Linked DNA regions of Homo sapiens. The protein of the gene in region 2 purifies or fractionates together with the protein of the main gene of each other region. This does not show direct contact. Each region holds a gene or a part of one and is shown on either strand. Other genes may lie near its edges.

Region 1 (3,658 bases), on a different chromosome or scaffold from region 2:
AAACAACTGAGAAGATAAATTGGTGAGGGAAAAAAATCACATACATAAAAAACTTGAAATTATTTAGCAATTAGCTATTATTTTGACTTATTTGTGTTGTGGCTGCTTTTCTTCAATCAATAGTAGATAATATTTCCCACTTCCTGAAAGCCCACTCAGATTGCCTGAGGAAGTGAGCCACCTCTAAACTGATTAGAGAATAACTTAAACATAATTAATTGCAGATGATATTCATCACTGTTTGTACAATGCTGAAAGAGCTCACAGTCCTGTTTGTATATAAAACATCCACAGACAAGAAACTGGATCCCCGGCCTAAAGGGTTTACAAAGTAGAAACCAAGGAGGAACCAGAAAGAGAGATGAGACAAATCCAAATCTCCGATCAGGAGACAAATTTAATTATTTGGGCTATGTCATTGCTAAAAGGTGATGCTAAAGAGTTGTTTTTTGTTTTTTGTTTTTTTTTTTTGAGACGGAGTCTCACTTTGTCACCAGGCTGGAGCGCAGTAGCCTAATCTTGGCTCACTGCAACCTCCGTCTCCCAGATTCAAGTGATTCTCCTGCCTCAGCCTCCCAAGTAGCTGGGACTACAGGCACACACCACCACGCCCAGCTAATTTTTTGTATTTTTTGTAGAGATGAGGTTTCACCATGTTGGCCAGGATGATCTCGATCTCTTGACCTCATGATTCGCCCACCTTGGCCTCCCAAAGTGCTGGGATTACAGGTGTGAGCCACTGTGGTTTTTTTGTTTGTTTTTTAGAGGGAGTCTCACCCTGTCGCCCAGCCTGACGTACAATGGCGTGATCTCGGCTTATTGCACTCTGCCTCCTGGGTTCAAGGGATTCTCGTGCCTCAGCCTCCCAACTAGCTGGGATTACAGGCACACACCACCACGCCCAGCTAATTTTTGTATTTTTAGTAGAGACAGGGTTTCACTATGTTGGCCAGGCTGGTCTCGAACTCCTGACCTAAGGTAATCCACCCACCTCAGCCTCCCAAAGTGCTAGGATTACGGGCGTGAGCCACCACACCTGGCCAAAAGGGGTTTTCTTATAAAGCAAATACAATATTTTTGCTGTGAAAGGAAGATGTTCCAAACTGAAGAGATTAAGCTGAATTTATACTATGCCTACAAAAGGTACAGATGTATACATGCCTTAATTGCTTTTTACTTAAAATCACTTATAGTTGACTAGAAATTATCCCTTTAAAAAAATTTTTTTTTCTTTTTTTAACAGAGATGGGATCTCATGATGTTGACCAGGCTGATCTCCAACTACTGGCCTCAAGCAATCCTCCCATCTTGGCCTCCCAAAGTGCTAGGATTACAGGCAAGACCCACCTCGCCCAGCCTAGAATACATCCCTTTTAAAGAAAAACATCTATGAAATTATAGATGGCTAGAAACAGAGTACCTGGTGAGACACTGTGGGTGAAAAGCATAGTGAAAAAGAATCTATTGTATATTGGGCCCCAGGTTTTATATATACAAACAGGTAAATAAACAAAATACTCAACTAATATTTTCCTTCTATGATATACAAAAGGTTGTATATCAAGTCAGTCATTTTTCTAAAAATTCTGGCTCTTCTATTGTATGTGCATTATTAGGCATGCTCAAAAGGCAGCATTTTAATTTTGCAACAGATCCAAACTTATACATCCCAATGACTGGTGTCCTTCCCTTTAGCTAGTAGCTCTGTAAATCTACATCCTAATTATGATATTGTTCAAAGAAGTTTTGAAACTCCTAACTCGAATCTACCCTCAGAGGTTTTAAGATAATGTTTTAATCCAAATCCTAACTCGAATCTACCCTCAGAGTTTGTAAAATATTGTTTTCATTCAAGTGAGGTCTGACTACAATGGTTACAATTTGTGTAATTTGGAAACTGACCTAAATAATATAAGAGTTCCAAACATATTTAAGAACCATCAACTGCAGTAGTGGGAAAATCTAAAAGCAGCACTACTGGAAAAAGTTTTCCAAGATGAGGATATTATGTAAATATCTAATTCCAGCCTATATGCCCAGCACTTGCTTTTTTTTTTTTTTTTTTTCCTATAGACAGAATCTTGCTCTGTCACCCAGGCTGGAGTGCAGTGGTACGATTATAGCTCACTGCAGCTTCGATCACCTGGGCTCAAGTAATCCTCCGCCTCAGCATCATGAGTAGATGGGAGTACAGGCACGTGCCACCAGGCCCAGCCACTTTTAAAAAATTTTTTTACTCAAAGCCCTTAATTTTTCTTGGAATCTTTAATCTTCCAAGACCTTCCTGCAATGATGTTAGTTCAGTTCAGCCCGTGTTGGAATAATATGGGGCCTCCCCACTCCTCTCTTTAATCCCCTTTTGTGAAAATCTACATTTAAAACTACCCATTTGGATATAGGTTTAGAATGCTTTGCAGTTTCAAAAGGCTTTCATATGTATACTTCATTTTATACCTCCCTTCACCCCATGAAGAAGGTAGTATTATTTCCTTATTACAAGTGAGTAAATGAGATTCAAAAAGGTAGAACATGGCATGGTGGCTCACACCTATAATCCCAGCACTTTGGGAGGCCGAGGCAAGTGGATCACTTGGGCTCAGGAGTTCGAAACCAGTTTGCGCAACATGGCAAAACCCCGTCTCCACCAAAAAAAAAAAAAAAAAATAGCTAGGCATTGTGGCACATGCCTGTAATCCCAGACACTCAGGAGGCTGAGGTGAGAGGATCACTTGAACCTGGGAGGCAAAGGTTGCAGTGAGCTGAGATGGCACCACTGCACCAGCATGGGTGACAGAGTGAGACCCTGTCTCAAAAAAATTAAAGTAGAACAACTTAGGTGTACATGGTTACAAGAAAATGTAATAGAAATAAATTTAAGAAATAAATTTAAATTTAAAATTTAAAGGATAAATTTAAATTTAATAAATTGAGTTCCTTAATTATATTTTAAGACAAATTTTACTTTTTTCTCATTACAATGGACAATAGGTACCACTTCTACCTACAAGAATTATAAACATAGGCCAGGCATGGTGGCTCACGCCTGTAATCCTAACACTTTGGGAGACAGAGGCAGGAGGATCACTTGAGCTCACAAGTTTGACACCAGCCTGGTGAGGGAGACTGAGAAGTCGGCACTATGAGGAAATGAAGCCATGTACCCTGAAAAGTGTAAATTTGGAAGAAAGCTGGATGACCATCTTGAAATGCTTGAAAGGATATTGTACAGGTAGTACTAAATTATGACCCCTTTTCACTAAGAAAACAATGGGTCACTCAGGAAGCACTAAAAATGCAGTTCTACTAAGCAGAAAAATGCAGGGTGCCCTGGGTCAGCATGCCAGCCAAGTTCTATACTGCAGGACAAGTCCAAAGCTCCTCCTTTAAAAAGGCTCCTGCAGGCAACATGCCTGCACACTAACGTGCAGAAAGGGACTGTACTACTCAAAACCACCAAGGAAGTGGCAGAGGTAAGTCAACATCTAATCCTGCCACTCTGTGTGGCAAAGAACGCTGGGAGCAAATTACTTCTGCTGCTCTTTGAAGGCTGTGCCAGCGTCACCTGGATAGCGCAAAGGAAACAAGAGAAAGGAACAGAGCCCCTCTTCTGGCCTCTGGGCTACCATACAGAAAAGCAGGTAACTGGGGAAGGACAGAC
Region 2 (3,658 bases):
AGTATGGGAAAAGGTGTGGAAGAGTTCACATCTAGGAGAATGACAACAGGCATTCAATAGAGTTACAAAGAGGTTTTTTTTTGTTTTTTTTTTGAGATGGAGTCTCACTCTGTCACCCAGGCTGGAGTGCAGCAGCACGATCTCGGCTCACTGCAATCTCTGCTTTCCGGGTTCAAGTGATTCTCCTGCCTCAGCCTCCCGAGTAGCTGGGACTACAGGCGCGCACCACTGCGCCCAGCTAATTTTTGTTTTTTGTTTTTTCTTTTTTTTTAAGAGATGGTGTTTCACCATGTTGGTCAGGCTGGTCTCCAACTCCTGACCTCGTGATCCACCCACTTTGGCCTCCCAAAATGCTGGGATTACAGGTGTGAGCCACCGCACCCAGCTTTTTTTGCTTTTACATCTTTGTATTGTTTGACTTACTCTAAGGAGGTTGTATATTACTTTTATAATTGGAAGTAAAAAAATTCATAAAGGAGACAGGTGTGGTGGCATGTGCCTGTAGTCCCAGCTACCCAGGAGGCTGGTTGAAGTGGGAGTATCACTTGTGCCCAAATTCAAATTCAGCCTAGGCAACATAGTGAGACCCCATATCTCTCTTTTTTTTAACTTTTATTTTAGGCTTGGGGATACATGTGAAGGTTACATAGGTAAACGTGTTAAAAACCACAATTATTTTTGCACCAACTTAGTATTTCATCACCCAGATATAAAGCCCAGTACCCAATAGTTAACTTTTCTGTGCCTCTCTGTCCTTCCACCCTCCCTCCTCAAGTAAATCCCAGTGTCTGTTGTTTCCGTCTTTGTGTTCATAAGTTCTTACCATTTAGCTCTCACTTCTAAGTGAGAACACGTGGTATTTAGTTTTCTGTTTCTGTGTTAGTTTGCTAAGGATAATAGCCTCCAGCTCAACCCATATTCCCACAAAAGACATGATCTCATTCTTTTTTATGGCTGCATAGTATTTCATGGTGTATATGTACCACATTTTCTTTATCCAAACTGTCATTGCTGGGCATTTAGTTGATTCCATGTCTTTGCTATTGTGAATAGTGTTGCACTGAACATTCGCATGCATGTGTCTTTATGGTAGAATGATTTATATTCCTCTGGGTGTGTACCCAGTAATGGGATTGCTGGAGACCCTATCTCTTAAAAAAAAAAAAAAAGTATATATACACACACACAGACTCACATAAAACCCAAATATATATATTAAATTATTAAATATATTATTCTCCCCAAAACCCAGCCATTTATATATATATATTTATATAATACTTAAAAGCCATTTATATATATATATATATATATATATAAATGGACCTCAAAGGTATCTTTCACTCTTCTTCCTTAGTATCTTGGCACATGTTGTGCCTTCTAATCCATTGTCTTGTTCCACTTACTCCCTTATGCCTATATATATATATATATACACACACACACACACACACACACATATATGGCTTTTGAGTTTTTGTTTTTTTATATACATATTTATATATACATATACATTTATATGTATATGAATATATTATATATTTTGTATATGTATAAAATGTGTGTATATATAATAGATATGTGTGTGTATGTATATAAAACAAAAAATAATAAATACTCAAAAGACATTTTTTCCCAAAGATCAATAAAGTAGTCCTATCTACTTTATACATGTAATATTAGGCATGTATACCTGTAGATAAAATGGAAATAGGAGATATTCCAAATGGCATCAGGTATATTATACAAGTAAATTTTAAAAATTAGATGAAATGGCCAGTTTACCAGAAAATATTGAAATTTGGCTCTATACAAAAATGAAAGACTAATAAAAATTTTTAAAAATTGATATAGCTATATTCTCCCAAAAACTCACCCAGATAGTTTTACATGTTTGGTAAACGTCTGGTTCACTCATTCAATAGATACTTTTTAGTGCCTATTATGCCCTTAAAAAAGTATTGTTGTTCTAGGCTCAGGGTTTATTTTCTAGCTAACATTTTTTGAGTGCTTATTTGGTGCTAGATACCATTCCTTTTACATGTATTAGCATATTTATTCTTCACAATAATATATAGTGGGGAGCAGGTGATTACTGTTAAAGTATAGAAACTGGTACAGAGAGGCTCAATACCTTGTGGCCAAAACGATCTTTTAAAAAACACAGATCGAGTTAACCTGCTTATAACTATTCAGTGGCGTATTACTGGTCTCTGCAAAAGACCCATATCCTTAACAAGGACCTAAAAGCCCACAATGATTTGGTTGCTGTTGCTACTGACTTCTCTAAAGTAGACTTGTACCACTTTTCTCTCTCTGTATCCTATCTTTCAGGACCTCAAAGGTATCTTTCTCTCTTCTTCCTTAGTATCTTGGCACGTTGTTGTTCTTTTTTACCCATTGTCTCGTACCACTCATTCCATTATGCCTAGTGAAAGTCTGATAATTCTGTAGATCTTAACTCTACTTCTGGATGTCTTTCAATTTCCAGATAAAATGAAGTCCTCCTACTGAGCCCACTCATAGTCTTATGAACTTACCTTCATTACCCCTAGTAAATATTTTGACATGTATTTGTGTAATAATTTGATTAATTAATACTTGATTGTATGAGGGCACAGACTATACACACACACACACACACAAACATATATATATATATTTTTTTGAGGCAGGGTCTCGCTCTTGTCACCGAGGCTGGAGTACAGTGGTGTGATCACAGCTCACCATAGCCTCAACCTCCTGGGCTCAAGTGATCCTCCCACCTCAGCCTCCCAAGTAGCTGGAACCACAAGTGTGTGCTACCATGCCTGGCTAACTTTATTTTTGGTAGAGATGGGGTCTTGCTATGTTGTCCAGGCTGGTGTGAAACGCCTGTGCTTGAGTGATCCTCCCACCTTGGCCTCCCAAACTGTTGGGATTACAGGTGTGAGCCACTGCACCTAGCTGATATTTTCACTCACCATTGTATCCCTAGCAACTTGGATAGTGCTGACACATATCAAGCACGCAAGAATGACTTAAATTTCTAAATGGATTATCTATTTTAGTCATAAGATACATGAATTGGCATTAAAGTTTTCAAGAACCTCTATCAATATAATGTGAGGCTAGTCAATTATCCAAAAAGTATTCTCCTAAAACCTAAAAAGTAAGAAATTAGTAAAATTTTCAATAAGTAACCAAGGACAAAACTAGATTGTTCTATAAAATTTTAAAAACTAACTTTAAGACAAAAATTAGTAGGATGTAGTTACTGGGAAATTAAACAAGTTGGGAAATACAAACAGGGTGGAAGATGATAGTTACCCTACACATCTCACCAACACTGTCTAGGATTACAGACAAATGATTTTACCTCTTTCCTTAATCAAAACAAATTGTTTAGGGAGAATGTTTTAAAGGAATAGTCCCAGCCGGGCGCGGTGGCTCACACCTATAATCCCAGCACTTTGGAGGCTGAGGCTGGCAGATCACTTGAGATCAGGAGTTTGGGACCAGTCTGGCCAACATAGTGAAACCCCGTCTCTACTAAAAATACAAAAATTAGCTGGGTGTGGTGGCACATGCCTGTAATCCAGCTACTCGGGAAGCTGAGGCGGGAGAATCACTTGAACTCGGGAGATGAAGGTTGCTGTGGGCCAAGGTCGCGCCACTG

The links. The genes of interacting proteins can lie anywhere in the genome.
Region 1: the proteins of TMED5 (region 2) and LONP2 purify together in Homo sapiens (co-immunoprecipitation; one large-scale study listed by IntAct). This does not show direct contact.

What each region holds. Positions count from the first base shown.
Region 1 is NC_000016.10:48,247,294-48,250,951, reverse strand, and holds part of LONP2 (lon protease homolog 2, peroxisomal), read right to left. Parts: intron 3,639-3,658; exon of another isoform or gene 3,413-3,638; intron 1-3,412. UniProt on the Homo sapiens protein: ATP-dependent serine protease that mediates the selective degradation of misfolded and unassembled polypeptides in the peroxisomal matrix.
Region 2 is NC_000001.11:93,173,883-93,177,540, forward strand, and holds part of TMED5 (transmembrane emp24 domain-containing protein 5 isoform 1 precursor), read right to left. Parts: intron 1-3,658. UniProt on the Homo sapiens protein: Potential role in vesicular protein trafficking, mainly in the early secretory pathway. Required for the maintenance of the Golgi apparatus; involved in protein exchange between Golgi stacks during assembly.